Linked DNA regions of Homo sapiens. Each later gene encodes a partner of the first gene's protein in a complex. Each region holds a gene or a part of one and is shown in the gene's direction. Other genes may lie near its edges.

Evidence for each region.
Region 2: METTL14 (region 1) and WTAP share a complex: the UniProt entries of both Homo sapiens proteins name them as parts of the WMM complex.
Region 3: METTL14 (region 1) and VIRMA share a complex: the UniProt entries of both Homo sapiens proteins name them as parts of the WMM complex.
Region 4: METTL14 (region 1) and CBLL1 share a complex: the UniProt entries of both Homo sapiens proteins name them as parts of the WMM complex.

The regions. Positions count from the first base shown.
Region 1 is NC_000004.12:118,709,161-118,716,348, forward strand, and holds the end of METTL14 (N(6)-adenosine-methyltransferase non-catalytic subunit METTL14), read left to right. Parts: intron 1-837; coding exon 838-1,142; 3' UTR 1,143-6,270; downstream 6,271-7,188. UniProt on the Homo sapiens protein: The METTL3-METTL14 heterodimer forms a N6-methyltransferase complex that methylates adenosine residues at the N(6) position of some mRNAs and regulates the circadian clock, differentiation of embryonic stem cells and cortical neurogenesis.
Region 2 is NC_000006.12:159,722,728-159,730,980, forward strand, and holds the start of WTAP (pre-mRNA-splicing regulator WTAP), read left to right. Parts: upstream 1-4,778; 5' UTR 4,779-4,976; intron 4,977-8,157; exon of another isoform or gene 8,158-8,238; intron 8,239-8,253. UniProt on the Homo sapiens protein: Associated component of the WMM complex, a complex that mediates N6-methyladenosine (m6A) methylation of RNAs, a modification that plays a role in the efficiency of mRNA splicing and RNA processing.
Region 3 is NC_000008.11:94,522,101-94,529,749, reverse strand, and holds part of VIRMA (protein virilizer homolog), read left to right. Parts: intron 1-407; coding exon 408-680; intron 681-2,386; coding exon 2,387-3,527; intron 3,528-7,649. UniProt on the Homo sapiens protein: Associated component of the WMM complex, a complex that mediates N6-methyladenosine (m6A) methylation of RNAs, a modification that plays a role in the efficiency of mRNA splicing and RNA processing.
Region 4 is NC_000007.14:107,753,747-107,761,395, forward strand, and holds part of CBLL1 (E3 ubiquitin-protein ligase Hakai), read left to right. Parts: intron 1-148; coding exon 149-232; intron 233-1,671; coding exon 1,672-1,745; intron 1,746-4,396; coding exon 4,397-5,432; 3' UTR 5,433-7,649. UniProt on the Homo sapiens protein: E3 ubiquitin-protein ligase that mediates ubiquitination of several tyrosine-phosphorylated Src substrates, including CDH1, CTTN and DOK1. Targets CDH1 for endocytosis and degradation.

The DNA.
Region 1 (7,188 bases):
GGCACAAAAATCGGGGTTAGTATAGAAGCAGTTACTATAGTAGTTCATTGTTTTCCTTAGAGGTTCATGAAAAGCATTAATGAGAAATGTTATTGGAAAGTTCATTCAGCCATCATTGTAAAAGATCTTAGATTTTATATTTATGAATTTGGGCTTTGTGGAAACAGTTGGAAGGTTTTTGAGCAGAGAAGTGACATGTTTTAAGCTTTGCTTTAGGCTTTCCACTTTTAGAGGGAGGAGAAGCTATAGGTTGGGAGATCATTACAGTATATATGTGTGTCTGTTACACATGTGTTATATGGTAGGGTATTGACCTTGTAAAAAAAAATAAAGGCTTAAATTTGAGGGTGGCAGCAGAAATGGAAAGATAGGAATGAGTGGGAGTAACATGGTAGTGGTTGAATTTCTCAGACCTATCAACTGAGAATATTTTCTAGTTAGCAAGTGTAGAGCAAAAGTTGGTTCCAAGATTTTAATCAGAAAATGGCACCATTTACATAAATAGGAAGATTATATATAATTTATTACAGTTTCACTAAACCCAAACTCAGTGTAATGTATGGGATTTTTTTTCTCTAAGTTCTATTCTCACAAAAGATAGTACGTGGATGAGGAGGATATATTACAAAAGTTACAATCTAGGAGGAGAAACAAGATATATACCTGTGAAATCTTTAAAACATGACCACAATTAAGTGCCATTCTGTAAAAGAGATCAGTATTGGATGAATGATGGGGACATCTTTAAGAATGCATTGGGGATTTGAACTAGCTTCTAAAGAATTAATAAGAGAGAATTGCAAATAAAAAGTATAATCTTTTTTTCCTCCATTTCAGGCTGGCTCACAGTTGGACCAACGCTTACAAATAGCAACTACAATGCAGAAACATATGCATCCTATTTCAGTGCTCCTAATTCCTACTTGACTGGTTGTACAGAAGAAATTGAGAGACTTCGACCAAAATCGCCTCCTCCCAAATCTAAATCTGACCGAGGAGGTGGAGCTCCCAGAGGTGGAGGAAGAGGTGGAACTTCTGCTGGCCGTGGACGAGAAAGAAATAGATCTAACTTCCGAGGAGAAAGAGGTGGCTTTAGAGGGGGCCGTGGAGGAGCACACAGAGGTGGCTTTCCACCTCGATAATTGTTGAAGACATTGAACCTATTCATCCTCCTCTAACCTTCTTTATTGTAATTAAATTTCAAGTGGGAGACTTAACTTTAGAACTCACTTCCAGCTTGCACTTTGCTTTAATTTCTCTGAGCTGCAAGAATGTCTTAGCGAGCCTTGCTTGCAGTTGTCACACACACTGTCTGGTTTTTTTCAGGATAAATGAATGATTCTGCCTTTTGTTATGTGCGTGAACAGAATGGAACAACTCAAGTAGCTTCATCTTCAGAGACTGAATTTATTCTGATAGACTTCAGCTAATTACAAAGGATTTTGCTAATTTTTGGGAATAAATAATGGAAAAAGATCCAGTCTGTGGTATCATGCTAGTGCTGACAGGGCCTTGATAGAATAGAGTTGGAAAAGATGGTAAGCTTTTGTCAGGGTTTTAACATTTTCTTGATGAAACAATAAAAAGAGGTAAGCTTTTTTCTTCTTTTTTTTTAAGTTTTAAATAAACTCAGATATAATTTGAATACTGAAGAAATTAAGAGACTTTGAACAAAAACTCTTCCCAAATCTAAATTTGATAGGGGAGGTGGAGATTCCAGGGGTGGGTGAAAGAAGAGATAGAACTTAGCAGGCAGACTTAAAAAAAAAAAAAAAGTTTATCATCATAATCTCAATTTTGTGGCTATGACTCCTAATCACGCTTCCTAAGAAGCAAAGGAGGACAAATATTCATGTGCTAGATAGCACTGTGGTGTGGACTTGAACTTGGATTGACCTTAAATTTTATATTCCTCAAATAAAAGAGAGGCAGCGACAAGATACCTCATTATCAGATGCTTGGTTTATACATTTTGGGACTAAAATACTTGGTGATGAAATGACATACACCTTTAAACTTGTTATGGAGATAGTTTAATGTAAAACCAACTACGGAAAACCCTCAACTTAAGGATACAGCTTGGAAATTGGAACTGCAATTGCCTTTTATTAAAACCATATGGTGTGATGTTTGTTTTTAAAATTATATAAGACTTTATGCTGTCACTTCTCTTGCTGTACTGTAATTCATGTTTTAAATGAATTTGATAATGAAATTATACTATTATCATTCTTGATGAATACTTTTCTTATTTTTATGATTTTTCTAATGAAACTTTAAACTTTTGAGATTTGAGAGTCTGTTTTCTATAAGTAGAATTACTGTTGTTACAAAATGAAAAAGGACTGACCTAAAATCAGTCTCTTCTTTTGGTCTGTGATGGATTTTAATGGCCGTTCTGTGCTCATATATACCTAAGATGAGATTATATTACATCCACCAAAGACTCAGTTTGAAGATAAGGAATGAGTGATAGAAGAAATAAGGCTGAGATCCTTAAAAGCCTAATTAATTTAACTCGCTTAACCCATTAGTACTATCTAGTACAAGACCCCTTTTTTTTTGCTGAAATTATGGTATATTTTCAACTTCACTAATTACAAATTATCTAGATTTAGAACTCTATATGTCAGCATTGACCTGGGAATGAAGTCAGGATAGAGAAATTCCACTTGCCTGTGATGGGTCCTTAGAAGTATCAGCTAAGGAGTGACCCTGTCCTATACACAGGGCTCTCTATTACGTTCCATACCCTGGGCCTACCCAAGGTGACATTCCTGCTGTTTACATGGCATAGGCACCTGTGAGATCAGTGTCACAATTTCATCTTAGAAAGAGGTAGGTATGGCTGCTTTGTCGGTTGAAAGTTAAGGGGAGCCATGATCTACCATATTTAGGAAAAAGTTATTTAAAAAAGAGCAGATGGTGGAAAAAGAATGTAAGACCCAGAATTTATCCCTTTGACAATGAATCTGGCCTTTTTAATAGCAGGATGGAATTGATTCACTAGTTTTTGCTAACTTTCACTTTCAGTAAAGGTTGAGGTGTTGTTTTTGCAATGACTGTGTATTCATTGAGGAAAGGTTTCCAATGAAATTTCATTACTCTGACCTCTTCTAATTTTTGGTCTTCTTTATATTTACATGTCTTACATTCCACAAAATTATTTAGAAATGCTGGGCATGGTGGCTCATGCCTGTAATCCCAGCACTTTGTGAGGCCGATGTGGGTGGATCACTTGAGGTCAGGAGTTTGAGACCAGCCTGACCAATATGGAGAAATCCCATCTCTACTAAAAATACAAAATTAGCTGGGCGTGGTGGCATGTGCACGCCTGTAATCCCCGCTACTCGGGAGGCTGTGGCAGGAGAATTGCCTGAACCCAGGAGGCGGAGGTTGCAGTGAGCCGAGATTGTGCCACTGCACTCCAGCCTGGGCGACAGAGTGAGACTCTGTCTCAAAAAAAAAAAAAAAAATTGTATAGAAATAAATTTTTAGTTGCTTTATGCACTAATTCCTTACTGGGGATAGAAGCTAATTATTGTGAAATAACCTAGTTTAGAAGTTAGAAGATCAGCATGTCTGAGTTTTTACAGAATTATAATTCATGGTATTCCAAACCAACTGTTGTTATTTATTTCCAGTGAGAACCATTTTCCCACTGACCTTCCTCCTTTCAGAGGATGGGGATTAGGAGGCCCAAAGTACTGATTGAGTAGGAATACTTTTTTACTCTTCTTCACTGTGGAGAAAGAAGAGGGCAGGTAGTTGATGATGTCAGGAGAACAGATTTTATGGTGTGGAATACCATACCTAAACACAAATGAATCAGATTAGACCACAGAATTGTGATGATGGCAGTCAGAATGTAATACGGTCATCATGAAACAGCACAGTGTGAGAGGTCAAGGTGTCAACCTGGGAAGTGAGAATCAAGCAGGAGTGTGGCATGGCAACCAACTCACAGATCCAGAGTTGAGAGGGATCACTACTGCAGCAGTTCTGCTCTGTTACTCTGGTAAGTAGTAGAGCCACTTTATGAGCCCTTATTTCCTATCTCCCTTATTCTGAGGCCAGGTCAGTGATATGCTATAGTTTCATTTAAGTTAATGGAGTATAAAGATGGGATACTTGGGAGCTATATTGTGCATCAGGGTGTCACAGCTGCTACTAGGAGTTACTCCTTTTCATGTCTTTTAAAATACTTTCTACCCATCTTAATTGCTAAATTATCTTTCAGTTAGTTACAGCGCTTAATTTAAAACCTGTACTGTTTTCATCCTGAATTTAGAACATAAGATTTAGCCTTTGAAGTATAGTTTCAGACTTTACTAATTTGTTTAATATAATCCTTATTAACATGACAAAATGAAAGCCCTGTTGGGACTTAGTCTAAACAGTAGTCTTTGATCTGAAAGTGTCTCATATTTTGTGATCTATTAGAAACATAAACCTTTGCTTATGCAGAAGGTCTTTCTTAGAACAATCCTGTAATCTTAGGGTTCATGTGTGACTAGCATTATCCTCTCTTTGATGTTGGGTAATAGAGGCTGAACTTTTCTTGTGTATATATAGTTAGTTTTGAGGCCATAAATCTAGGACTTCTCAAAAGATTAGAACATTTATCCAGTAAACTGACTCCATTGAAGACTTCATTTCTGGAAATACCACATTGCTTCTGCTCTCAATAACTCTATCATTTACTCGTATAAATATTGCTAGCTGTAATGCACAGAGAAAAACTACCTCATTCAATCTAGATAATTGGGACATCCTTTTCCAGTAAACCCTTTTTCCACTACTGGATAAAATATTAAAATGATCAGTTTGAGTGTATGTTAGAGTTCATGTTTCTGTAACTAAAGGTGCTAATAAACTGAAATCAGATAAGGTAGGTTTTTCCAAAAATACTTCTAAATAATTGACAACCTAGAAGTCAACAATGTAAAATGCATATGGGACTCTATATTAATAGAGAAGCAGGCCAAGAACTTTTTAATGGGATAATTGTCTTCTTTAGGCACATTGTTTGCATATTAACGACATGGAAATATTTTCACTCATTTACTTTCATCCATCTATCTGTGCTTTTTCTCACTTTGATGAGTTCTCTCAACTCCTTTCTAAGAAAAGCAGAGCAGAGCAGCATAGAGTGCGTTAGTAAATGGCCACTGACTCTTGGTCTCAGGCCATAGCAACTATAGAGAGAAGAGTGGGGCTGGAGACCTCATACCCTGGGTAAAGTGGACATCACTTGTCAGCTCCAGCTAATTGTCACCACAGAGAGAAGAGGGTAAGTCTGAGATGTTCATGTGCATTTCCCTACATTTTAGAGGTTGACAAAATAGTTTGTGACTTTTGCTTACATTTGCATTCATAGAACTAAAAAAAATTTAACTTGGCTAACAAAATACCACATGCATATTTTCTTTTTTATTTTTATTTTTTGAGACAGAGTCTCTGTTACCCAGGCTGGGGGGCAGTGATAAGATCTTGGCTCACTGCAACCTCCGCCTCCAGGGTTGAAGCGATTCTTCTGCCTCAGCCTCCTGAGTAGCTGGAATTACAGGTGCCCACCACCACACCCAGCTAATTTTAGTATTCTTAGTAGAGACAGGATTTCACCATGTTGGCCAGGCTGGTCTCAAACTCCCGACCTCAACTGATCCACCCACCCTGGCCTCCCAAAGTGTCAGGATTACAGGCGTGAGCCTCTGCAACTGGCCAACATGCATATTTAAATTATGCATGCATTGTAGCTGTATACTGTGTGACCACATTTACTTAAAAAAGAGGAAAAAAGGTTACTTGCTTGAGACAGGAAACTATCACCTTTGAAAGCATATTAAGTAGTTGGCTTACTTTGGAACACACAGTAGACTGAAAATGTGAACTAATACTTTAAAATTGCCGTATAATGATGTCATTGCAAGCCATTCATCTATCCAATGGGGGAAAATGTGGAGGTCTAGGCTTGTGTTGTCACAAAATACACCTTTTAGATAATCCTTACCTGTACAGATTTTTATAACTGTTGTTATCATAAGAGAATGGCTACATCATTATCCTGCCTTTTCTGGGTGTTTATTTTGTTGTTTTTGAAAGTGGACAAAACCTCAAAGCACAATTTTGTTCTGATATATCCAGTTTAGTAGTTTATGCTGGTTAAATGATCAAAGTAATTGCTTAAATGTCTTGTGGAATTAGCTGTCACTTTATAGTTTATGTATTGTGGTGGGTACCTTAATAATAAAAAGATTTTTAATGTAATAATATTGCTCATAATTCATGAAAGCTACATGGGTAGTTGGGTTATTGTTTTGTCTAAGAAGCTAGGTTTATAGCATGGTAAATAAAAACTCAAGATTATAGCTTTCTTTTCTACTATTGAGCTCAATTAAAGGATAATGCATGATTAAAAATATATTTATAAAAATAATTCCAAAGCAAAATTTAGAAAAATGTAAACACAAATGTAAGCCCATCAGCCAACTACCTCCTTGAATCTTAACTCCATATCCTTCCTCAGATGGTGCTGACAAGATAGTGGATCAGGATGGCACCAGCACCTCTTTGGGGACCTTTCCCAGTTCTGATTGCTTTCCTTTACCCTGATTCAAACAGAAAGCTTGCCTTTTCATCTGATACCTGCATTTGTCTACTCACCTAGTCCTGAGCTTTTACACCACTGCTTGGGCTCTTATGACTTAGTTTTTGTTGTTAGCTTTATAAGGGCAGTGGTATGCTTTCTCAGCTTCTAATGTATGGCATATAATAAGTGCTCAATAAATAGTCCCTTTCCCTTGCTGCTTGCTTAATAATTGGAAATAACTCCCAGGAGATTTTTCATAACCTTCCCTTGTCAGCTCTTTTCCCTTCTGCTGATGCTTTCTTGCTGTGTAAGAGGACTGTTTTTCTAACAAAGACTTTTTCTCTGTCTCAAATAAAAGAACATTATCTTTGGGGATAAAGAAAACAAAGCAGTTTCCACTGAATTACCATTTATCAGAGGTCTTGAACAGAACTAACTTCCCCTGGTCTGACTTTAAAGGAACCTGACTCCTTCCTTAGAATGTAACTTTTCAATTACTTCTCTGCCAAGGGCAACATGTTAAAATAAGGAGAGCGATTTAACTACACCTGTGTCACCTTGTTTAATTATAGCCTAAGTGGAAAAAGTAGATTATA
Region 2 (8,253 bases), on another chromosome or scaffold:
CCTACAACAACTAGCCCAGTAAACCAACCACTTATTTACCATAAGTGTACTCTCAGCCTGAAAGCCAAACCTGCTATCAACCAGACTTGTAGGAAGTCAGACTGCTATCTCTGGTAGCAATCCAGGAAGCTAAATAATAACTTCTATGACAATCAGCTCAAAATGGCCAGGACTTGATTAAAACTTGACAGCTTCCCTACTTTTTGTCCTCACTTCTAGCTTATGCCCATCCAGAGAAAGCCAAATATGCTCCTTTAACCAAGACCATAGGATGCCAACTTGTAGTTAGCTTCCAGCTTCCCCATGCCAACAGCTTCCAATCAGGCATACCTGTGAAACCTTTCCTTTTGTCCACTGTAAAGCTTTCCCACTCCTCTGCATGCCTTTGAACCTCTGCTAAAACATAAGGGATGGTGGCTGACTCCCTTGCTACAGCAAGTTCTCAATCGACTTTGCTTTTCTCATTTGGTTTGCAATAAAATGCATTCTTTACAGTGACACAATTTGATGAATTTTGACAAACGTATACATTCCCACTAACCATGACACAGAACATTTCCATCACCCCCAAAAGTTCTCCCATTTTCCTTTCCAGTCAATTCCTTCTCTCTTCCCCTCCTAACCAACCACTGATCTGCTATCTACCACTATGGATTAGTGTTGTTTGTTCTCCTAACTACAGTTGGCATAGCCTCATTGGTCTAAGCACTTCCTCTGCATTCAGGCACAACGAAATACCTGGCTCATCTTGTACCTTTCCCGTCCCAGAGCTGGAATCAGCCAGTTCTCCAAAGGAGCTCTGGATCTTTTTAGTGGGAAATGGAATTTAGAAACCAAGATCTCAGTGTCAGATGTGCTCACTGTTACTGTAGGGTGCCCATGCCTATACATCCTGGTTCAGCCAGGACTGTTCCAGTTTTAATCTGAAAGTCCAGCATCCAGAGAAAACCCCTCTGTTTGTGGCAAACTAGAACAACTGGTCACCCTAGTGCTTCTAGGCCCTTTCAGTCCACAGAACTAGGACTTTTTTTTGCAGTTGAAACTTTTTTTTCTTTTTGATAGGGTCTGTTGCCCAAGCTGTAGTGCACTGGTGAGATCACAGCTCATTGTAACTTTAAACTCCTGGGCTCATTTGGGCCTCTCGCCTCAGCCTCCCAAGTAGCTAGGACTATAGGCACAGGCCACCACCCCTGGCTATTTTATTATTTTGTATTTTGTAGAGACAAGATCTCACTGTGTTGCCCAGGCTGGTCTTGAACTCCTAAGCCACTTTGGCTTCCCAAAGCACTGGGATTACAGGTGTGTGCCACTGCACCCAGCCCTCCAGTTTAAACTCAATACTACAGACTTTTTTTTTCTGAACTTCTTAAAATTCTTTATATTAGTTTCCACCCCCACCCCCGGATGAATGAACGTCTTAAAAATTGTTTTAAATTTTTTAAAAAATGGAGACAGGGTCTTGCTATGTTGCCCAGGCTGGTCTCAAACTCCTGGACTCTAGTGATCCTCCCGCTTTGGCCTATCAAAGTGCTGGGATTACAGGCATCAGCCACCCGGCCCTTTTCTGAACTTCTTTGATCTTGTGTTTGTATCTCATTCTCTCACACACTGCACATCTTTGTATATAGTAACATTAAAATACTTATGTTATCCTACCATATACAGTACAGAGTTTTAAAACCACAGTAACAATGTTACCATTAATCATAAATCAGTGAAGCTGAAAGCTCCTGTGCACTTTTTTCATCCTTAGAATACACAGTTGACCCTTGAACAACACTGGTTTGGACTGCCAGGGTCCACCTATATGTGGATTTTTTTCACCCCAACACAGATGAAAAATACAGTGGGGCGAGGGACGGTGGCTCACACCTATAATCCCAGCATTTTGGGAGGCTAGGTGGGAGGATCACTTGAGCCCAGGAGTTCAAGACCAGCCTAGGCAACACAGCTCTCTACTGAAAATAGAAAAAAATTAGCTAGATGTGCTGGCACATGCCTGTGGTCCCAGCTACTCGGGAGGCTGAGATGGGAGGATTGCTTGAGCCCAGGAAGTCAAGGCTGTAGTGAGCCATGATCGTACCACTGCACTCCAGCCTGGACGACAGAGTCAGACCCTGTTCTCAAAAAAGAAAAAAAAAAAGAAAAGCAAGAGAAGGGAAGGAAGGGAGGGGGGAAGAGAGGGAGGGAGGGAAGAAGGGAGGGAAGAAGAGAGGGAGAGAAAGAAAAAAAGAAAAGAAAAAGAAAGGAAAGGGAAGGAAGGAAGAAAACAAAACAGAAGTACAGTGGGATGCAAAACACACCTACACAAAGAACCAACTTTCCCTATGCTCAGCTCCGGGACTTTAGTATGCAGATTTCTGTATATGCTCGCAGAAGGTCCTAAATCCAATCTCCTGCATATAAGGAAAGACTACACTATCACAACACAGATACACTACTAGAGTACTGTGTTCAAAAGCTCAGAGGGGCCAGTGGTGGTGGTTCATTCCTGTAATCCCAGCACTTTGGGAGGCCAACCTGCAGGCGGATCACCTGAGGTCAGGAGTTCCAGACCAGCCTGGCCAACATGGTGAAATCCCATCTCTATTAAAAATACAAAAATCAGCAGGGGATGGTGGCGCATGCCTGTAATCCCAGCTATTCAGGAGGCTGAGCTGAGAGAATCGCTTGAACCCAGGAGACAGAGGTTGCAGTGAGCTGAGATTGCACCACTGCACTCCAGCCTGGGCAACACAGTGAGACTGTCTCAAAAAAAAAAAAAAAAACCCAAAGAATAATTATTTTTTCTGTGTATCTTAGTTATATTAGTTAACAGTTAAGTTCATTTGTTTCAATTTGCTTTCAACCTTAGGATTTACTTTGTTTCCTTTTTTATTTACTTTTTTGGCTATGTAAAACTAAAAGTTCAAAGACAGAGAAATCTTGTCTCCACCCCCCACTCTTTATAGGCAACTAAAAATGTTAAGTTTCCAGGATATCCTTCCAATTCCTCCCCGAAAATAAGCATATACACATAAATATTCATATTAAATATAAATATATATTTTTATGTATTTAAGTAAATACATAAAAGCATATATGCTTATTTTTGCTTTTGAATACAGTGAATACTTACTACACTTAAATATTTAAGTGAATACTTAATACAACCTGAGACTCATTCCAAAGCAACACACGATTATTTCCTGAATCTTTTTAATGGTTGCATTGTGTTCTACTGTATGGATGCACCATTCCCAATCAGTTCCCTATTAACGGATATTTGGGTTATCCCTAACTTTTGCTATGACAAATAGCACTGCAATAACCTTGTATACCTATTGTTTCCATGTGTGGAGCTGCACCTTCAGAATAAGGTTAGGGTTAGAAGTATAACTGCAAGGTATAAGAATAAACACAAGTAATTTTGTACTCCGTGGAACTTGAACCATTTTTCCACTCCCACCAGGAAAGGTAATTTCAACGTGTATTTCCATTGTAAGTGAGGTGGAGCGACTTTCTATGTTTAAAGACCATTACGGTATTTTTTCTGAGAATCATCTGTTCATGTCCTTCCCCATTTTCTCCTTTGGCTTTTGCACTTTTTGTTTTCAATTTTTGAGAGCTCTTGTGATACGAGTTGCAAAGATTTTCTCCAGACCGATCTGATTCACTGGAAATATACTACGACCATCTGGAATGTACTTTAATCTTATCCTAATAAATCACCTTACTACAAGACACTCCTTTGGGGATGAACAGGTTTGATAAAGCCGGCTAAGGACAGACCAATCAAAAGAATTACGTGCTCTTCTAGTAAGTGTTTAGAGACTGTTTCACGTTCTCCAGGTAACACCGCCATTACTCGGCGGTCCAGATGGCAGTCTTACTTCAGGGAGTCTACTCCACTTGCAGGACCTCTTTGATTGAGTTCACTAAACCTCACAGGGCCGCCTTCCCCGTGTTCCAGTTAGCAAGGGGCCCTCAACGCCGCGGACACAGCGCAACCTCCGACGCCAGAGAACAATAGCTCCTCGATGCGTCTCCAGAGATGTCAAGGAGGAACGAACCCAGCGGCCAGGAGACTGCGCCTCACGACTGATGAGAGGGAAGGCATCGGTTTCTAAGTTCTCAAAACTTACAGGTGAGCTTCTGCTAAGAGTAAACGCCCGCGGCTCGCCGCCCACGGCCTCTCTCTTGAGGTGGCACCTGGTCCTCCGACACGCGGAAGCATCACGGATGAGCGTCACGAACACAGAGCGGCCAATCACGCGCCGCCTTCGCCCAGATCCCTCCGCACGAGGCAGCCCCGCAGCCGCAGGTGGCCCCGGCGAGTACTTCCACCTTCCCTTCCCGTGATGCCCTGGGGCTGACCTCCGACCTCGCTGGCCCGCCCCTCCCCTCGGCCGCTTCCCTTACTGAGCTTGCTGAGCTCCGGGGCCCGCGGAGCTCGCGCCAGGCTCCTGGGAAAGGACGGGGAGTGTTACCGGGGAGCAGCTGCTCCATTGTGCCTCGAGGCCCCGATCGGGCTAGGCCGACGGCCTCCCTCCCTTCACCTTTCCTCTCCTGGCGGGGTTCGGCGGCGGGCGAGTGACTGCGGCCACGCCTGAAAGGCGACTCTCCTGTGAGTGGGCCAGAAGGCGAACATGGCGGAGCGGGGAGGCTGGCGGGAGGCGGGAGGCGGGAGGCGGGAGGCAGTGGCGCTGGCCTGCGGCGCGTTCGGACCGGCTGTGGGGCGGGGCAGGGCGGAGCGGAGCCGTGCGGCGGGGCGGGGCCGGGCGGCGGGGCCTGGTTTCCTCCCTCAGCGCCATTTTGTGGCAGCGAGACCCACAAATAAAGGGGAGCGCAGGGGTTGCGGCGGGACTAGGAGCGCGGCGGGGCCGGCGGCAGAGCTGTCCGGCTGCGCGGTGGCCCGGGGGGCCCGGGCGGCAGGGCAAGCAGCGCGGCCTCGGCCTATGCGACCGGTGGCGCCGGCGCGGCTTCTGCCTGGAGAGGTAGGCGCGGGCCGGCTGGCGGGAGCGGACGCGGGGGACCTCCGGGGCCTGAGGGCTGATGCGCAGCCGCCCCCGGCGGGTAAGGGGCGGGCAGGGCCCGAAAGGCCACACGGGCCTGGTGCGGCACCGGTCTCTCGTGAGCCGCTCTACCTTCCCGCCTGCGGGGAACACTTCCGCCGCTTCGAGGCCATTTTATCTCTGTCCTCCGTCCCCAAGGCCCGGGTTGAGAGGGGTGCTCTGGCGGCCGGAGAGACCGGCCACTCACGGAGGCCGGAGGATGCCCTCCCCGGGCTGAGCGGCGGCGCTCGTTTTTTCCTCGCCTCGGGGTCGCCCCCTTCACCTCCCTTGGGCCTCTCCTGAGGACCTGGCGGCACTAACGAGTTCAGCAAGGAAAAAAAGAAACATTCGTTCCCTACATTTCATGTCACGCAGTAGGATGTTACTACGTTCTCTTGTAGACTTCCATTTTTAAATGAGTATAAGCATTCTGAGGAAAGAAACTGAATTATTGCAGATTTTTGTGAAATCCAAGTCTTACCTTGGATCCCTGTGAGACAGTTACTAGATTTTTTTTTCACCGTTTTTCATAAGTCTGTGTACACGTAATGGAAAAGCCCGAGTTCTTGTTTTGATAAGAAAGTCACTTGGTTGTTTGATCCCAAAGGATTAGCTTAACATTATCAAGGACTAGCATAACTGTGATTATGTAAAAAAAACAAAACAAAACAAAAAAACTATTATTTAGTCTGGTAGGGAAATACTTCTATGAGTATGTTACAATTGGAAGTTGTATTTGTGCCTATTTTATCTAGTTTTAGTTAATTCCATTGCTTCGGAAGATAAGTGGACGTCATAGATCCATCGCAAGTTCTCGTTTTTTGGATTTTAAAATTTTGACCATTAAGTTTTCTACGATAGATAAACATGTTGTGGACATTTAAAACCGTAATTTAAAACTATGAGCGAAAAATCTTTTCAAGATGGATACATTTTAATTCATTCAAGTAGCATCTGATTAGCCAAGTCGGGGAAAGATTGCAGTCCGCAAAGCTGGCTTGTGATAAGGTTGAGGTTACATTTTAAGGGTTTGGGTAGGTGTGTTTCTTACAGTGCTTTTATATGTTAAGGTATCTTAAGCAGACACATGGTTTAAAAGTTCAGTATTTTTAGTACTTTTTCATTGGCAGAATTTGGACAAGCTACCAGAATTGCTAACTCCTAAAGGATAAAAGTAATAATAATAGTGTGTCCCAGGCACTGCTTATTTTTACATGGCTCTTTTATGTCTAGCTTTTCCAATTCAACGTTGAGTCATGTTTGCTGAAAATATTTTTGTGTATTGTTTGTCAGAAATAAGCTGGTAGAGATGAAACACAATGTGTAAAAAGCCCTGTGATGTGGAGATGAGCATTGTCACAATTTGTACAGTACATTAAAGCGTTCAAGGTCTCTTATGGTCTTGTATGTAGTATTGAATCCCCTTGAATATATTGTTTAGCAGTTTTGATCATTATGTATTTGCTTCTTGCTCCTCAAAATTGTACGTTAGTTAGTAGGTCCTTCAGCAAAAGAAGACTGAAGATAGTATTTTGGTTTTATTCTTGTTTTTAATTTTTTTAGTTGTCTCCAACTTTTCTGCCTCTAAATATTTTGCTTCTTGTAGTTACTAAGCTTAACACAGAAAAACTTTTCAGTATCTCCACAATAGTAAACTTCATTGTGTATTGTGTATAACAAGATGTTCCATCTGACTAAAATATATTGCTGTAAATATTTTCTGCCTTTGAAGATGTAGTTAATAGAATTTAATCTTTTCTAAGTGCACATTGAAGTTGCCTTTTATGTTCATATTATGTTCATATTTTATTTGAAAAATCTATAGCATTTTTATTGTGCTGAAAGCATTAATATTTGCAGCACTTTGTGAGACAGGCAAAATTATCTTTTTGCTGACTTGGAAACTGCAAGAGTTAAAAGACTTGCTTGGAATCACACATGGCAGATAGAGGATAAGGAAAAGATGGCCTTTCAGTTCCTCATCAGTACCTTGCTACTACAGTGTCTGCAGATTGGTGTCTTACATTCAGCTATGATTTGTTCGCCAAGGTACCGTGTCTTCTTACTGAAGTTGTTTTGGCTGGCGCTTGCCTCCGTTCAGAGGGAACTGAGTTACCTAACTTTATGATGCTAAGAGCCAGGAAGGTACTGGGATCTGGGATGCTAGGCACCTAACCAGTCTAGACTGAACTCCATACTAAGCTGTTTTTCTGTGTTAAGGCATCAAGAGTAGATGGTGGTCCTGATTTTCTGAGATATATTATCTCTGAATTATCTACATAAATAACTGAAACTTTTATGTAATTTTAAAACTAGTCAATCATGTTACCACCCTTTTGAGGGGCACCAAATTTGAGACCCTTACCCCCAATTTATTAATTAATAGCTGTTTTAATCACCTAATAGCTGATCACCTAATGACTAACAGTCATTTTCATCCTGGAAAATGGGAACTAACTTTGACTTTGAAAAGTGCTGTTATTAAATGTGTGATTCATAAGAACTGAACATATTTTCTTTATTATTTTCCTTCAGGATTCAACTTTAATTGACTCCAAATGATGTTATGGTCATTCTGTTTTTCTGATACGAGAATAGATTGTTCTGAGAACCTAGAATATTCATTGCCTTTATGAATCTAGAATTGACTTTAAATTTAGGTTATTGTGTTTGTCATTTGCGCTAAAAAAAAAATTGCCCTGGGGAATACCAAACTTCTCGGTACATTCGTGTGGTGTGAAAGTCAAAATTGCCAATTAGGTTCTATTTTGACCAAATAGTTGAATGTTGTAGACAGTTGTAAATTTTGAACCTGTTCTAATTTGCCTTTTGCCAGATGGCGCATTTAACTTTGTGGCATATCATCGACTTTCAAGGAAAGATTTACTTTTCATCAGATTAAAGTTGAGGAAGGATTTTCTTTCTAAATACTGAGGCTCTGAATTTCCCAAGTTGGATACCCCAGACAGCTAGAGTGATCTTAAAAGTGACTCTGAGAGTTGACTTAGGAAGTGTAGACATTTATCCAAAATCTGTATTTACTCCTGACTTACATTACAAATACAGAGTTTTATTTTTAAAGAAAATTTCAATAAAAAGCACCATTTAATTAAAATCTACTCACCATCAAACTTTTTAAAAAGAACATAAGCCAATGTCAGGAGTTGGAGACCAGCCTGGCCAACATAGTGAAACGCTGTCTCTACTAGAAAAAAAAAAG
Region 3 (7,649 bases), on another chromosome or scaffold:
GAGAATTGCTTGAGCCTGGGAGGCGGAGGTTGCAGTGAGCCGAGATCATGCCACTGCACTCCAGCCTGGCCGACAGAGTGAGACTCTTGTCTCAAAAAAAGAAAATAAATAAAAATAATAAATAAAATAAAATAAAAATAAGTATGTACTGGAAAAGACAAAAACGTGTATAGTTACTTAAAAGCTAAAAAGAAAGGGAATGGCTTAACAGTATACTTTATTATTGCTCACTGTAGAAGTTGTACAGTGTATACTCAATATTTTTTAAACAGTGAGTAATTCTTTTTTTTTAAGGGTATTTATAAACTATATCAACCAAAATATTAAGTAGTTGCCATATCCAGTCTTGCTGCCTTTTGTCATTTAAACCATTAAAATAGTCTGTGCCTTAAATCTCAATTTTTCAGTGTCTGGTGACAAGGAAGAGGATGCTCCTCATAGAGAAGATTACTTTGAGCCCATTTCTCCTGATCGGAATTCTGTTCCCCAGGAAGGGCAATATTCTGATGAAGGAGAAGTAGAAGAGGAACAACAAGAAGAAGGAGAAGAAGATGAAGATGATGTGGATGTAGAGGAAGAAGAGGATGAGGATGAGGATGATCGACGAACAGTAGACAGTATTCCTGAGGAGGAAGAGGAAGATGAAGAGGAAGAAGGTGAAGAGGATGAAGAAGGTGAAGGTGGGTTATGTTAGCTAGGACTTTGGGGTTTAAGTACTAGAAACTAACTCGATACAGCTTTGAAAAATGCAAAAGAATTTCTAGCAAAGATAAATGGGTTCCAAGAAACCCAGGGTCAGAATGTAGCTAGGCCTCAAGGCATGACTAGAAATGAGATTTCCATCTCTCCTCTGCTTTGTGTGTTTACTTTAATCTCCCCTGTTTAACCAGCCAGCCTAAACTGCCTGACTGTATCTCAGTTTTCTGTTTGACTTGCTACAGTATGAGTTTCCCTTTGACAGCATCAGCTTTTGCCAGGAAAACAGGGTCATGTAACAAATACATGTTGGTTAGGGATTTGGTGGCTGTTTTCAGAGTAAGGAGTGGTAAAGCTAGGTGGAATTCCTAAAGATGTCTGCCACCTAGATATTTTAGCAAATGCTACATTATTTTTAAAAATTCAAGGGAAAAATCTCAATTACACAAGTACATGTGGCAGTATGATACAGTCCTTTAATTAGGCTTTATTTTTCCTTTGAAAGCAAAAAGTGAGAGATACTCAAGCTAATTGGCTCTTAATTTGCCCAAGAAATGGCATTTAATGTTAAAGCATTTATGCAGAATAACAGATAATCTGCCTTGGCTTTTTTCTACAGATAGTAAAAATGAATGTCATTTCAGAATCATAGGGGCTCTTTTAAAAAATATCAAATAGCTAGATTATCATGTGATTTTTTTTTAACTTTCCCCATTCACAGATTATCAAATAATTATTTCTAGATTTATTGTATTTGGCAAAAGTAGTTAAATGTTAGGCAGGCAGTTTTCTTTTTTTCTTTCTTTTTTTTTTTTTTTTTTTGAGACAAAGTCTCATTCCATGACCCAGACTGGAGCGCAGTGGTGCGATCTTGTTTCACTGCAACCTTCACCTCCAGGGTTCAAGTGATTTGTCCCTCAGCCATCTGAGTAGCTGGGCTTACAGGCACGCACCCCTACGCTCAGGTAATTTTTGTATTTTTAGTAGAGATCAGGGTTTCACCATGTTGGCCAGGCTGGTCTCGGACTCCTGACCTCAAGTGATCTGCCCGGCTTGGCCTCCCAAAGTGCTGGGATTACAGGCATGAGCCACTGTGCACAGCCATATTTTAAATGGACACATTTTCTATCAAAATATAATGGAGACCTACAAAACTGTGTGATAGGTAAATGCAGAGAAATAAAAATTCTGGAATGTGAAATTGTTATAAAACGAATCTACAATGGTTTTGCTGAAAGTATTTGGTTTAACCTGATGATATTAGTTCTTACTTAACTTAAAACAACCAGTTTTTTTTGGTCTTAAAAATAATCTCTCAAGAGGACAAGCATAATTTCTTTCCTCCTGAGATAGATATTTTTGTTACTTTGAGGCATTTCTAATTATATTTCTGTGAGGAAAAGATATCTGTTACAGTTAGTTGTAAAACTGAACAGATACAGAGGAATTTGCTTAAAATGTTTGTCCAGTTTTCAGGTCTCACCCCTTTCAGGAAAAAAAGAAGTTTGTCCATAATTCTATTAGAAATTATAAAATGTTGTAAAATTGTGGGTAAGATGTTGGGGCAGAAGTTGGTTTTGTTGAGGAAATCATTTTTAATGTTTTATTAAAACTATTTCTTGTTCAATCAGAATTTATGTATTAGACAAAGATGATGTAATACTTAAATATTATTCATACTAATTTTCAGGGGATGATGGTTATGAACAAATTTCCAGTGATGAAGATGGAATTGCTGACTTGGAACGTGAAACATTTAAGTATCCAAACTTTGATGTTGAATACACTGCTGAAGACTTAGCTTCAGTTCCTCCTATGACATATGATCCATATGACAGGGAGCTTGTACCACTCTTATACTTCAGTTGTCCATACAAGACTACTTTTGAAATTGAAATCAGTAGAATGAAGGATCAAGGTCCAGATAAAGAAAATTCAGGGGCAATCGAAGCCTCAGTGAAGTTAACAGAACTCTTAGATTTGTATAGAGAAGATAGAGGTGCAAAATGGGTAACAGCTTTAGAAGAAATTCCAAGTTTAATAATAAAAGGGTTAAGCTATTTGCAATTGAAAAACACAAAACAAGACTCCCTTGGCCAGTTGGTAGACTGGACCATGCAAGCTTTAAATTTACAAGTAGCGCTTCGCCAACCTATCGCCTTAAATGTTCGACAGCTCAAAGCTGGGACCAAATTAGTGTCCTCACTAGCAGAATGTGGGGCTCAAGGAGTTACAGGACTGCTACAAGCAGGAGTGATCAGTGGATTATTTGAACTTCTGTTTGCTGATCACGTATCATCTTCTCTTAAGTTAAATGCTTTTAAAGCTTTGGACAGTGTCATTAGTATGACAGAAGGAATGGAAGCTTTTTTAAGAGGTAGGCAGAATGAAAAAAGTGGTTATCAAAAGCTTCTGGAACTCATACTTTTAGATCAGACTGTGAGGGTTGTTACTGCTGGTTCAGCTATTCTCCAAAAATGCCATTTCTATGAAGTCTTGTCAGAGATTAAAAGACTTGGTGACCATTTAGCAGAGAAGACTTCATCTCTTCCTAACCACAGTGAACCTGATCACGACACAGATGCTGGACTTGAGAGAACAAACCCAGAATATGAAAATGAGGTGGAAGCTTCTATGGATATGGATCTTTTGGAATCCTCAAATATAAGTGAAGGGGAAATAGAAAGGCTTATTAACCTCCTAGAAGAAGTTTTTCATTTAATGGAAACTGCCCCTCATACAATGATCCAACAACCTGTTAAGTCTTTCCCAACGATGGCACGAATTACTGGACCTCCAGAGAGGGATGATCCATACCCTGTTCTCTTTAGGTAAGACATGTTTGCCTTTTGGGAAATAAATTTCACAAATCATTGGAGACAATTTTATGTGGTTGATTTTGCTTTTTATCTGATTGTAGGTAACTTATTTATGTGTAAGGATACTTGATATTTCAAAACGGTTATTTAGTAGTGGAACTGAGAAGTATGTTACTGTGGGTGAGCTTATATTGTGTTAGTTCTTAAAGCAAAAATGGGAACTTCAGTGAAAGATTTTAGTAATTAACAATGATGCTTGTATAAGCATGTCTATGAGCAAGAATAAATGAGAAACTGCTGACTTGCTTCTGGGAAGGTGGTAACAAAGGAATGGTGTAGGAAGGAGAGCTCTTCTGTGTGAACCCATCTGTACTTACTACTCTTAATACATTGTAAGTTAAAATTATATTTTACTAGCTTAATTTTACAGTGCTGGTTAAAGATGTCTTTAAGTTTCCATTACTACTTGTTTCTGCCATCTACCTCTCTCATCTGTTGATACAGTTTTGCCATTGTTAGGACCAGCATCCCTAGTAGATTTTTTATTTTGTTTTGAGACTTTCTTTCTTACCATTTGCCTGTAAATAATTTCCTAACATAAAAATGGAAAAATGGCATTTGAATTATTTTATTACTTATTTTTGTGATTAATATTTTCATTGATTTGGATGGAGCATAGTGCATTCCCAGGGGATGGGATATGTGTCCAGTCTAAAACCTCCACTTATCCAAGTTCCTGTTTTTAGCTGAAACTGTTACACCTTGTCTTAGTTTTGAGTTTCCTAAAAGGATAACTTGAGTCAAAGTCTTGGGTGCAGGTTCTTTGAAAGATTATCCTAGGAAGCAGAAATGCCTGAAGAGAGTAAGATAAGGAGAAAAACCAGTAAAGGAAGTGTTATTATACTTATTGCTGTGGACAGCTGGGGCTCATCCTACTGGGGATCCTCCGAAGAACTGGTTAAAGTGTATCTCCTGCTTATCCTCCTAAAACATTCAGGCTGGGCATTCGTCTACCAACTCTCCCCTTTGGTTCAAGGATGCCCACAAGAAACTTTTAACTCTTTTATGCTTCTGAGCTGTTCCTGCTTGTGGTCCGAGCACCCTTTAATCCCTTTGGGGGGAACCCTGAGAAAGAAAGGTAGAGAGGCCCAAAGTGAACACTTGAGGCCAGATACTGGCAACCCTCACAGATTGTGTACTGGGAAATCAATGGGTCAGTGATGGGAGGTTGGGGAGCAGTAATATGTAAGAGATGGGCAGAGAATGCATTTAGGCAGGATACTTAGAAGGAATAGAAAGACAAAATGAGAAGCAGGAGAGAATAGAAACTAAGGAAGCAAATAGTTTTAGGAACCAGTGAATGGTTTGTTGTGATACTGTGCAGAGGTTCAGAAGATAAGGATAGGAAATCATGTATTTTGTAACATAGATTGCAAATGGGGCTCTGGCAAAAGTAGTTTAATGTAGCAGTGGGAGAGGAAGTGTAGATGAAAAACCACTGGCCAGTAAGGATTTGAAATGGTGTAGGCCACTGTTTTAAGAAATGTGGGTGGATCACCTAAGGTCAGGAGTTTGAGACCAGCCTGGCCAACATGGCAAAACCCCATCTCTACTAAAAATAAAAAACTAGAGCCGGGTGTGGTGGCTCACGCCTGTAATCCCAGCACTTTGGGAGGCTGAGGTAGGCAGATCATCTGAGTTCAGGAGTTCGAGACCAGCCTGACCAACATGACGAAACCCTGTCTCTACTAAAAATACAAAAATTAGTCGGGTGTGGTGGTGGGCGCCTGTAATCCCAGCTACTTGGGAGGCTGAGGCAGGAGAATCATTTGAACCTGGAGGTTAGAGCATGCGGTGAGCCAAGATCTGGCCACTGCACTCCAGCCTGGGCTACAGAGTGAGACTCTGTCTCCAAACAAACAAACAAACAAACACCGGCCAGGCATGGTGGCTCACGCCTATAATCCCAGCACTTTGGGACGCCAAGGCAGGTGGTTCACCTGAGGTCGAGAGTTCAAGACCAGCCTGACCAGCATGGAGAAACCCCATCTCTACTAAAAATACAAAATTAGTGGGGCATGGTGGCGCATGGGTGTAATCTCAGCTACTTGGGAGGCTGAGGCAGGAGAATTGCTTGAACCCGGGAGGCAGAGGTTGCAGTGAGCTGAGATCTCACCATTGCACTCCAGCCTAAGCAACAAGAGCGAAACTCCGTCTCAAAAAAATAAATAAACAAGTAACAAAAACACACACACACACAGACACACACAAAAACTAGCCGGGCTTTGGTGGAATGTGCCCGTAAACCCAGCTACTTGGGAGGCTGAGGCAGGAGAATCCTTTGAACCCGGGAGGTTGGAGGTTCTGGTGAGCCGAGATCGGGCCACTGCACTCCAGCCTGGGCAACAGAGTGAGATGCTATCTCAAAAAAAGAAAAACTAGCCAGGTGTGGTGGTGCATGCCTGTAATCCCAGCTAACTCGGGAGGCTGAGGCAGGAGAATCGCTTGAACCCAGGAGGCAGTGGTTGCAGTGAGCCGAGATCGTGCCACTGCACTCCTGCCTGGGCGACAAGAGCGAAACTCCGTCTCAAAAAAGAAATTTGGCCAGCCTGGGCAACATAGGGAGACCGCTACAGAAAATAAAAAATCAAAAAAAAAATAGCTGGGAATGGTAGTGTGCGCCTGTAGTCCCAGCTGCTCAGGAGGCTGAGGTGGGAGGATTGCTTGAGCCTGAGAGGTTAAGGGTGCAGTGAGCTGTGATTGTGCCACTGCACTCCAGTCTGGGCAGCAGAGTGAGACTGTGTCTCAAAACAAGAAATTTGGCTAAGAGAAAAAGTAAGAGACAAGGCAGCAGCTAGAAGGAGATGTTGGAGTCAAAAAGGAAGGTTTTTATTTTTTAGGAGTGGGAGAGGCTTGAGCATATTTGTAGGCTGGGAATAATGACTCATTTATAATAAAAAGTCAGTGGAGAGGGAGATGTTTATGATGTAGGAGTAAACAATAACAATTCCTGGGGCAAGGCTTGGTGGGAGATGAGGACAAGAGTACAAGTGTAGGAGTTTGGTTTTGGGCAGGAGAAAGGGAATCTTGTAAGTATGCAAATATAATACATTTGTAGTCTTGGAGATTGTAAAGAAATTTAAATACTTCTTACTAACAACTTTATTTTTAGTAGAATAGGTGATGTTTTCAGTCACTGAGAAGAAGCTAGTAATTAAATACTTACTGAGTGTTTTTTTCCCACCATATGGAGGAGGTATATTTGGGTATCAGACAAGAGGAAATAAAGGGCCCAGAATGGTTGTGCTAAGGAATTTGGATTTTATTTGTAGAATATGGAAAGGTATTGAATATTTTGGAGTAGCAGATCTGATATGATCAGAGTAATATTCTCAGATTTTGTGTTGCAAGATGTATTGCAATGGAAAAGAAATTAGAGTTACTAGGAAGATAAGATAGTCTGAGGTTTCTAGGTACTGGGTTTTAAGTACTTTGCCCTTAACAGGTAATGGAAAGGCAAATATTGTGCTTATAGTGACAGAGATTGTGAAATAGCCATTATATTATATAATAGTACTAGGACTTGGCAACAGGACCTAGTAGGCGAAGGGAAGTGAGAAGAAGCTAGAGATTTCTAGCCAGGGTAGCAATTGGAGCTGTGGTTTTATTGACAGAAACTGGTAAATTAGGAAGGAGAGTGAATTTTGAAAGGAAAAATAATTGTACTTTGGAGGGTTTGTTTTTGAAGTGGTGGCAAGGCTCTATTGTCCTATGTCAGGTTCCCCAAGAGCACCAAGATTCTCTAGGAGGACTCACAAAACTCAGCATATAATACTCAGCAAAGGAAAAAGGTACCTGGGAGGAAGTTGGGAAAACCAGTTGCAAGCTTCCAGAGTCCTCTCACAGTGGAGTCACATAGTGCCTGCCTAATTCTCACAGCAACAGGTTGTGACATGTGTGAAGTGTTGCCTGTTGAGGAAGCTCTTTAGAAACTCGGCACCCAGGCTTTTTTATTTTTTATTTTTAAATAGCAACAGTGACATGTTTTGATACATGTATACATTGTGGAATAATTATATCAAGCTAATTGGCATGCAAATTTTTTTATTGTGGGTAGTCATGTAGGCACTCACT
Region 4 (7,649 bases), on another chromosome or scaffold:
TAATGGTGGGGAATAAATGGAGATTATACCAAGAGGCTTCTATTTCTAATTGTTTTAACAACTTTTATAAAATATTGACCAATTCATTGTGTAGATACAATCTTTAGAATTGTGTAAGAAGGTAATTTTAATTATATCATTTCAACAGATAAACATCTTAGGTGAAAAGGATGATACACCAGTTCATTTCTGTGACAAGTGTGGATTGCCTATTAAAATCTATGGGAGAATGGTAAGTATAATTAAATATTGTTTTTGTAAGTAAGCATTTGCATAGAGGTGGGGTTCTGAAATTTAGATAGGTTTATCATTGTTTAATGACTAAGTTTGCAAAATTTTAAATAAGTATGAAATAACTAAGGGAAGTATTGGAATACTATGAATTTAATATGATTATCTTGACAAATTGTTGAATTCTTATAAAATATTAAATAAAACTGAAAATTAGAATAATTTCTGAAAACTAATTCCTTTGGAGTGTTTGATACCAGTGAATTTACAGTTATTCTAGTTTATTAAGGAAATTTTTGTTTCTTAATAAATAGAACAAAACTGCTTATTTTTGAAGGCCACAATTTTTTACATAAAACTGCATTAATAATATTTATAATTTCTCTTTTTTTCCTGAGGCTCAGAGAGGCTTAATAGTAATTATTATTTCTGAAAATTGAATTATAATCATTAAAAAAATTTTACAATCCTAACTGTAATTTTATAGTAATTTTCACATTTCTTCCCTCCAAAAAAGATAGTTTTGCATTTGCCTTTAGAAAAAAAAAATTGAATTCAATAACATACCTGTGATGGTAGATGGCATGGATTATGCAGTGTTGCTTTGCTGAACATCATAGTAAAGAAATAGTAACAGGCTGTGAATTTAAAAATGTGCTTCTAACATCATTTAATGTATCCTTCTGATTGATTTTTAGATTTTTATTAGTTAATTAACTTGAAACTACCAGAGGAAGATGCTGCTTACGTTAAATATAGGACATACTTGTTATTTTACTGCATTGGAATAGTTTCAGGAGAAACAAGATTAAAAAAAAAACACACATAATTAAAAGTATTCTTCAGGAGTTTTTGACCTGCAGGGGGCTGGGTGTGGTGGCTCACACCTATAATCCCAGGGCTTTGGGAGGCTGAGGTGGGAGGATTGCCAGAGGCCAGGAGTTTGGGACCAGCCTGGACAATTTAGTGAGACCCTGTCTGTACAATAAAATAAAATAATTAGCCTGCTGTGGTGGCACACACCTGTGTTCCTCGCTATTCTGGAGGCTGAGGTGGGAACATCAGCCAGGAGTTTGAGGTTACAGTGAGCTGTGATCACACCACTGGACTCCAGCCTGGGCAACAGAGCAAGATCTGTTTCTTAAAAAAAAGGAAAAAAACGTGTGGGGACCATGGGTGAAATTTATAGGGTTTACACCTCCAGAAAGTATAAGCAAATGCATGTGTGTACATTTATTGGGAAAAGAGCCATAGTTTTTGTCATGTTCTCAAAAGGCTTTGTGATTGAAAAAGGTTATTATAATTAGTACTTAATAAATGTTCATTTTAACAGGTATTCTCAAGTGTCTTCTAAGCCTTATGTATAGGTTACTATATATATATATTTTAAAAATATTATAAGTTCTAATATGCTTAACTGTAATATGTCTTTGTTTACAGATTCCATGCAAGCATGTTTTTTGCTATGACTGTGCTATTTTACATGAAAAAAAGGGAGATAAGATGTGTCCAGGGTAAGATAAGATTATCATTACCTTTTTTAAATAATAAAGTTTTAGTGCAATGATTTATAAGTTGGATTAAAGGTTAGGGAGTGATGTAAATCAGGCAGGAGATGAAACATACAGACATGGCTAATCTTTTTCTGTGAGCCCAGCTTGTGTTAGGTTTCTCTTTAATATAGGGCAAGGTAGCCACTATCAGTCAACTCAAATTGGTCAAAATGAAATCTGTTTGCCATTATAGAAGTATTATTATAAACAAAAAAGTTACTTTTTTTAATGGGACATTAAAGAAGTATTAAGATATATTGAGAGCAAAGACTCCAGAATTAGAATTCCTGGGTTCGAATCCTTGTTCTGCTATTTATTAGCTGTTTTACTGTCATAGGCTATTCTTTATTGATAAAATGAGACTGATAATAGTACCTACCTCCTTGAGGTATTTTTAGGATTAAATGAGGTTTTATATATATATAACATATGTACACAGATACATATATATAGTAGCTGGCATATAGTAAGCACTGTATATATAAGCTCTTGTTACTTTCAAATCTGATTATTGTATTTGGAGTATGTCTTAGAACACCATCATTACATAGTCTCAAACAAGTTATAAAAAGCTAGGTCCATTTTGGGATGGTCTTGAAGAAAACAGAATAAGAATTTTTATATCAGTTCAGAATCGTTGATAAGGAAGGCTTAAGAAAGAATGAAAGATACTTGCTTGGAGTAGCCATAGGCTTCTTAGATCACTTATAACCTGTGCTTAAAGCTATACCAAGATTTGTGGTATTGATTGATAACAAAGCTGTGGACACTTGTCAGCAATGATTCCCTTTTATGGTGTAGGAAAATTTGACGTCACCAGGAGAGAAAGGGGTGATTTATTAACAGCTCAGTGACAACTAATTCTCTTGGCATGTTTTTATTAGCATTTTAAAGTAACAGATTATAACATTTGTTCTATGAATTTAAAAAATATTTTGTTTATAGAATTATAATTCAGAAGAATTAAGACATTAGAAATACATATCACTTGTTTTTTGGGTGTTTTCTCTCAGGCCTAATTTTTCAGCATGGTATACATTCATTTTAAGTTACATAGTAAATTTAATTGCTTCATCGGGATAAAGGATTTCAGATGTGATAAAACATTATTTAGAGGACTTTTAAAGGTTTCCTCTTTTGTATAAGTATTAAAAGGAAATTAAAAGGTACTTATTGTTTAAAGAAATTACTTCCCAAGGTACTAAATGTAACTAATGTACTGAATATTCTAATGTACTAACCTTACTAATGGACTTAAATGTAACAAAGTACTAAATGTCACACCTCACTTATGTGGTCCTTAGTAGCAATTTTAGGACAGAAGCCTATCTGGATTAACAGACCCAGATCAGGAAGTGAAGAAATGGCAGTCAGAGTTAAACAGTATATATTACTGTTCTTAAGCACCACCCAAGAGAAAGTGCTTCACATCTTGTTAAGGTGGAGATAGTTCGGAGTTTACAGTGAACTAGAAGCAAAAAGTGTGCCAGATGGCCACTAAAGGGAAGCATAATAACATCAATAAGGAGTGCCAGCCTTATAGTAAGGATGGAAAGATAGACACAACTCAAAATCAAGAGTATAGAGCCATTTAGTATAGTGTCAAATGACCTGACACACATATTCAATGATAATTGCTTATATATGTACACACACATATATTTATATATAGTGCTTAATTGGGGATTAAATACTGTCACTTTCATTGTTTCATTTGATATTAATATTCTTTTAGGTAATATGAAATAGATATAAAAACATTGTGAAGTAGGTAGATACTTTAACCTCATTGTATAAATGAAGAAACAAACTCAAAAATGGTTCAATGACTTCAAATTACTGAGCCAATACCAGATCCCAAGATCTTCAGATTCCTATTTCAGTCCTCTTTCCCCACTGTGTCAAGAAAGCTGTAATGGCAATTATGGATTAAATATGGTAAATGAAAAATAGTTATAATTTTGACCCTGAGTTTTTAAGAAAATGTTAAGTTAAATTTAGTGCTCACAAATTAGAAAGTTAGCAAAGTGTAAATTTGTCTGACAGTTCAGAAAAAACCCTTCTTTAAAGGACTTTTAGTAGTCAAGGCTTGGATTGAAATTGTTTGTTTAATGTTAAGAACCCTAATGATGAGGCTGATGTTACTTGTTGTAGTCCTTGCAATGTCTTCTACTTACTGTTTTCCACTTAGTATTATTTGCTCAACAAACAGTTATCACTCAATAATACCATACTAGTTTGAATTCCATGATTGTAAGTAATCTACCCGTTGGTTTTTTTCTTGCTGGGTTTTTTGGCAAATGGATGCAGAAGGTACAATTGTTTGAGAAAACTGGATAAATTCTAGGCCTTGGGAAGAATGAGGTCTCTTCTTGAAACATACCGTTTGATATTAGGAGTTCTGAAGTTGACAGAAATGCCTATCTTAATGGCTAACAGACAACAAAGTAGGGAAGATTAAAGGTTTGCGTAGAATAACTGTAACTTCTAATTGTGGACTTTTGCTATGTTTTATGTAACAGTCAAATTTTAAAAACAAGCATATTTTTGAAAATTACATAATTTTTTGTATTCTCTTTTAGTAAATCACATTTCTTTCCCTTCTAATTTAGCTGTAGTGATCCTGTGCAGCGAATTGAGCAGTGTACACGAGGTTCTCTCTTCATGTGTAGCATTGTTCAAGGGTGCAAGAGAACATATTTGTCTCAGAGAGACTTACAGGCTCATATCAACCATCGCCATATGAGAGCTGGAAAACCTGTTACCCGTGCTTCACTTGAAAATGTTCATCCTCCTATTGCCCCACCACCAACTGAAATCCCTGAGCGTTTTATAATGCCACCAGACAAGCACCATATGAGCCATATTCCGCCAAAGCAGCACATCATGATGCCACCACCTCCTTTGCAACATGTGCCACATGAGCACTATAATCAGCCACATGAGGATATTCGTGCTCCTCCAGCAGAATTGTCCATGGCTCCACCTCCACCTCGATCGGTCAGTCAGGAAACCTTTCGTATTTCAACAAGAAAACACAGCAATTTAATAACCGTCCCTATTCAGGATGACTCAAATTCAGGTGCTAGAGAACCACCACCTCCTGCCCCAGCACCTGCTCACCATCATCCTGAATATCAGGGTCAACCAGTGGTATCGCACCCTCATCATATTATGCCTCCACAGCAACATTATGCACCACCCCCACCTCCTCCACCACCAATAAGCCATCCAATGCCACATCCTCCCCAGGCTGCAGGTACTCCTCACTTGGTATATAGCCAAGCTCCACCTCCACCAATGACCTCTGCTCCACCACCAATAACCCCTCCCCCTGGACATATTATTGCCCAGATGCCACCTTATATGAATCATCCTCCTCCAGGACCTCCCCCACCTCAACATGGTGGTCCACCTGTAACTGCACCCCCTCCTCACCATTATAATCCTAACTCATTACCCCAGTTCACTGAAGATCAAGGAACTCTGAGCCCTCCATTTACACAACCAGGGGGAATGAGTCCTGGTATATGGCCTGCACCAAGAGGGCCACCACCACCTCCACGATTGCAGGGTCCGCCTTCTCAAACCCCACTTCCTGGACCACATCATCCAGATCAGACAAGATATAGACCGTATTACCAATGATAATAGTATTTTGAATGGAAGATATGAGGGGGAAAAAAACTTATGTGTAGTCAATCTTTTAAGCTTTGACTGTTTTGGGAAGGAAGAGTACCTCTTATCGAGGTAGTATAAAACACATAGGGTCTTGTTTCTTAAAATGGTTTTAAATCTTGACCTTAAGATTGATTTCAAGTACCATACTGTAGTACAGATAAGTGGCTCAGTTGAGCACAGCTATATTTTAACATCTCTTTGTTCCCCTAGTTTAGTAAATTGACCCAGAGGTGACCATTTGTAAAAAATTTGAAAAAATTTTTCATTGTTTTACTTCAAAAGTATTGTTTTGTTAAACCCAACGTTTAGTTTTTCTTGTGATACATTTTGTTAACCTGTGTAAAAGGATTAAATTTCAATATGGTTGTAAAAATGCTATTTTTATGTGAATTTAAGTGCAGCCACATACTGTTTTTTAAACCATATGTTTTACCACTAATTTCCCAAAGTTATAATAAAATCCTGAAAGTAAAAATCTACTAGAATTTGCTGTAAGGCAGACTGTTAAATGATAGAGAATTATTTCACATTTTAGGCACTGAAATGTTGAGGTTTCGAGGTATAGTAAGTATACAATGCACTTCACTTGGATGCCTTTTCATTTTTAGGCAGCCTCAGGAGCACCAAAATACATTGGAATTCTAGTACTAAGATATATTTGTTCGTAATGTTAAAAGACATTACTAATTATTTGGAAAGAGATGGCCAAAATAATCAACTCTACAGGCTTCAAGCTGGTGGGGGAATGCTGTTACTCATTAATGCTTTTTTACTGAATGGTCGGAATCACATATGCACCACACATACTGATCTTAAGTAACATTATTTTATAGAACTGTTTAAATGGGTTTAAATGGTGTTCTTTAGATGAAATGTGTTCTGTTTTGTTCATTGTCTTAAACTGAATAGGGCTGAATAGGCTTTATGTAATTCTTCATTTCATGGTAGAGTTTGATGCTGTGTTTAAGTGGGTTCTTGTTTATAGGATTTTCAACTACAGTTTGAATGCCATGGAGGAATTTGAATAATATATTAATGAAGGACATATTCTTGTAATCACAAATTTGCATTTGCTCAGGTTTCATTGCTGTGTGATAGGATTTTTCCTCTAACTTGAAATTTAAAAACTTTTATTTCCTATTCCTTTTGTCGGTAAAGCAGTCTGAATTTGGAACATTTTATCATGGAGTCAACAGTGAAGACTACCAGATAATTTTGTATTGGAGAAGAGGAAATAACAGCTAAATTGTGGATTTCAGTGCTTTACATGGTGCCTTTCGAGTCAGCTTTTACATTATAGGGGCTTGTTATAGTTTAGCTAAGATGACCACTTAACAGTTTATACAGAACTCATATGTATAAATCAACATTCTTAGGATATTATTTATATCCTTTGAATAAATCCCTGTGAAGTTTTTCCTCCCCACTAAAATGGTGCATAATAAAACATGAAATATGTAGTATGCAGATATCATTTATTAGATAGTTTGTAGTGTATACATTTAGAACATACTTCTTTTGACAAAGGGTGATCTGATTGCTAATTTACCATTTTATTCTGTCAGGTACAGGTGAAACAAATTCTCATCTTGAATGATCAGATGCAAAATCATTTCTGAACCCTAGAGCAGAAGTTAGAAATAACAAAATGGCCGTTTCAACCTTGACTGGCCAAAAATAACTAATAAACTTTTTTGTTTTAAGTCAGGCAAGTGATTTTCTACATTTAGCAGTTTGAAAGTCCAGTGTTAATGCAATATTTCTAGTGAGAAATGCTTGTTATTAAAAGCATGGGAGTGATAGTGTGAAATGGTGGTGAGTGCTTCTATCATATTACTGTAGGTACTTGGACTGGTGCAAACTTGATTCCTTTTCATCCCCCTGTTTAGGAGCTATTAAAATATTACTGTTAAAAATCCAAACCATTCTTTGTTCCATGTAATAAGAAAATAGCCAAAATCACTTTAGAGCTTCTCAACTATTTATGAAGAGCTATCCTGCTTTTATTGAAAGTCACTAGAGTTGAATGTGGTAAGAAACCACTTAGCCTATGTATTGGACGAGAAAATCAGTATCATGATAAAATTTTGAATTAAGAGAACCCTTGTAGAGTTTTTAAAAAATGATTTATTTTCAATTAGGTTTAAGAAATCTATGTTATGCAGGGAGGCATATCAGATGAAT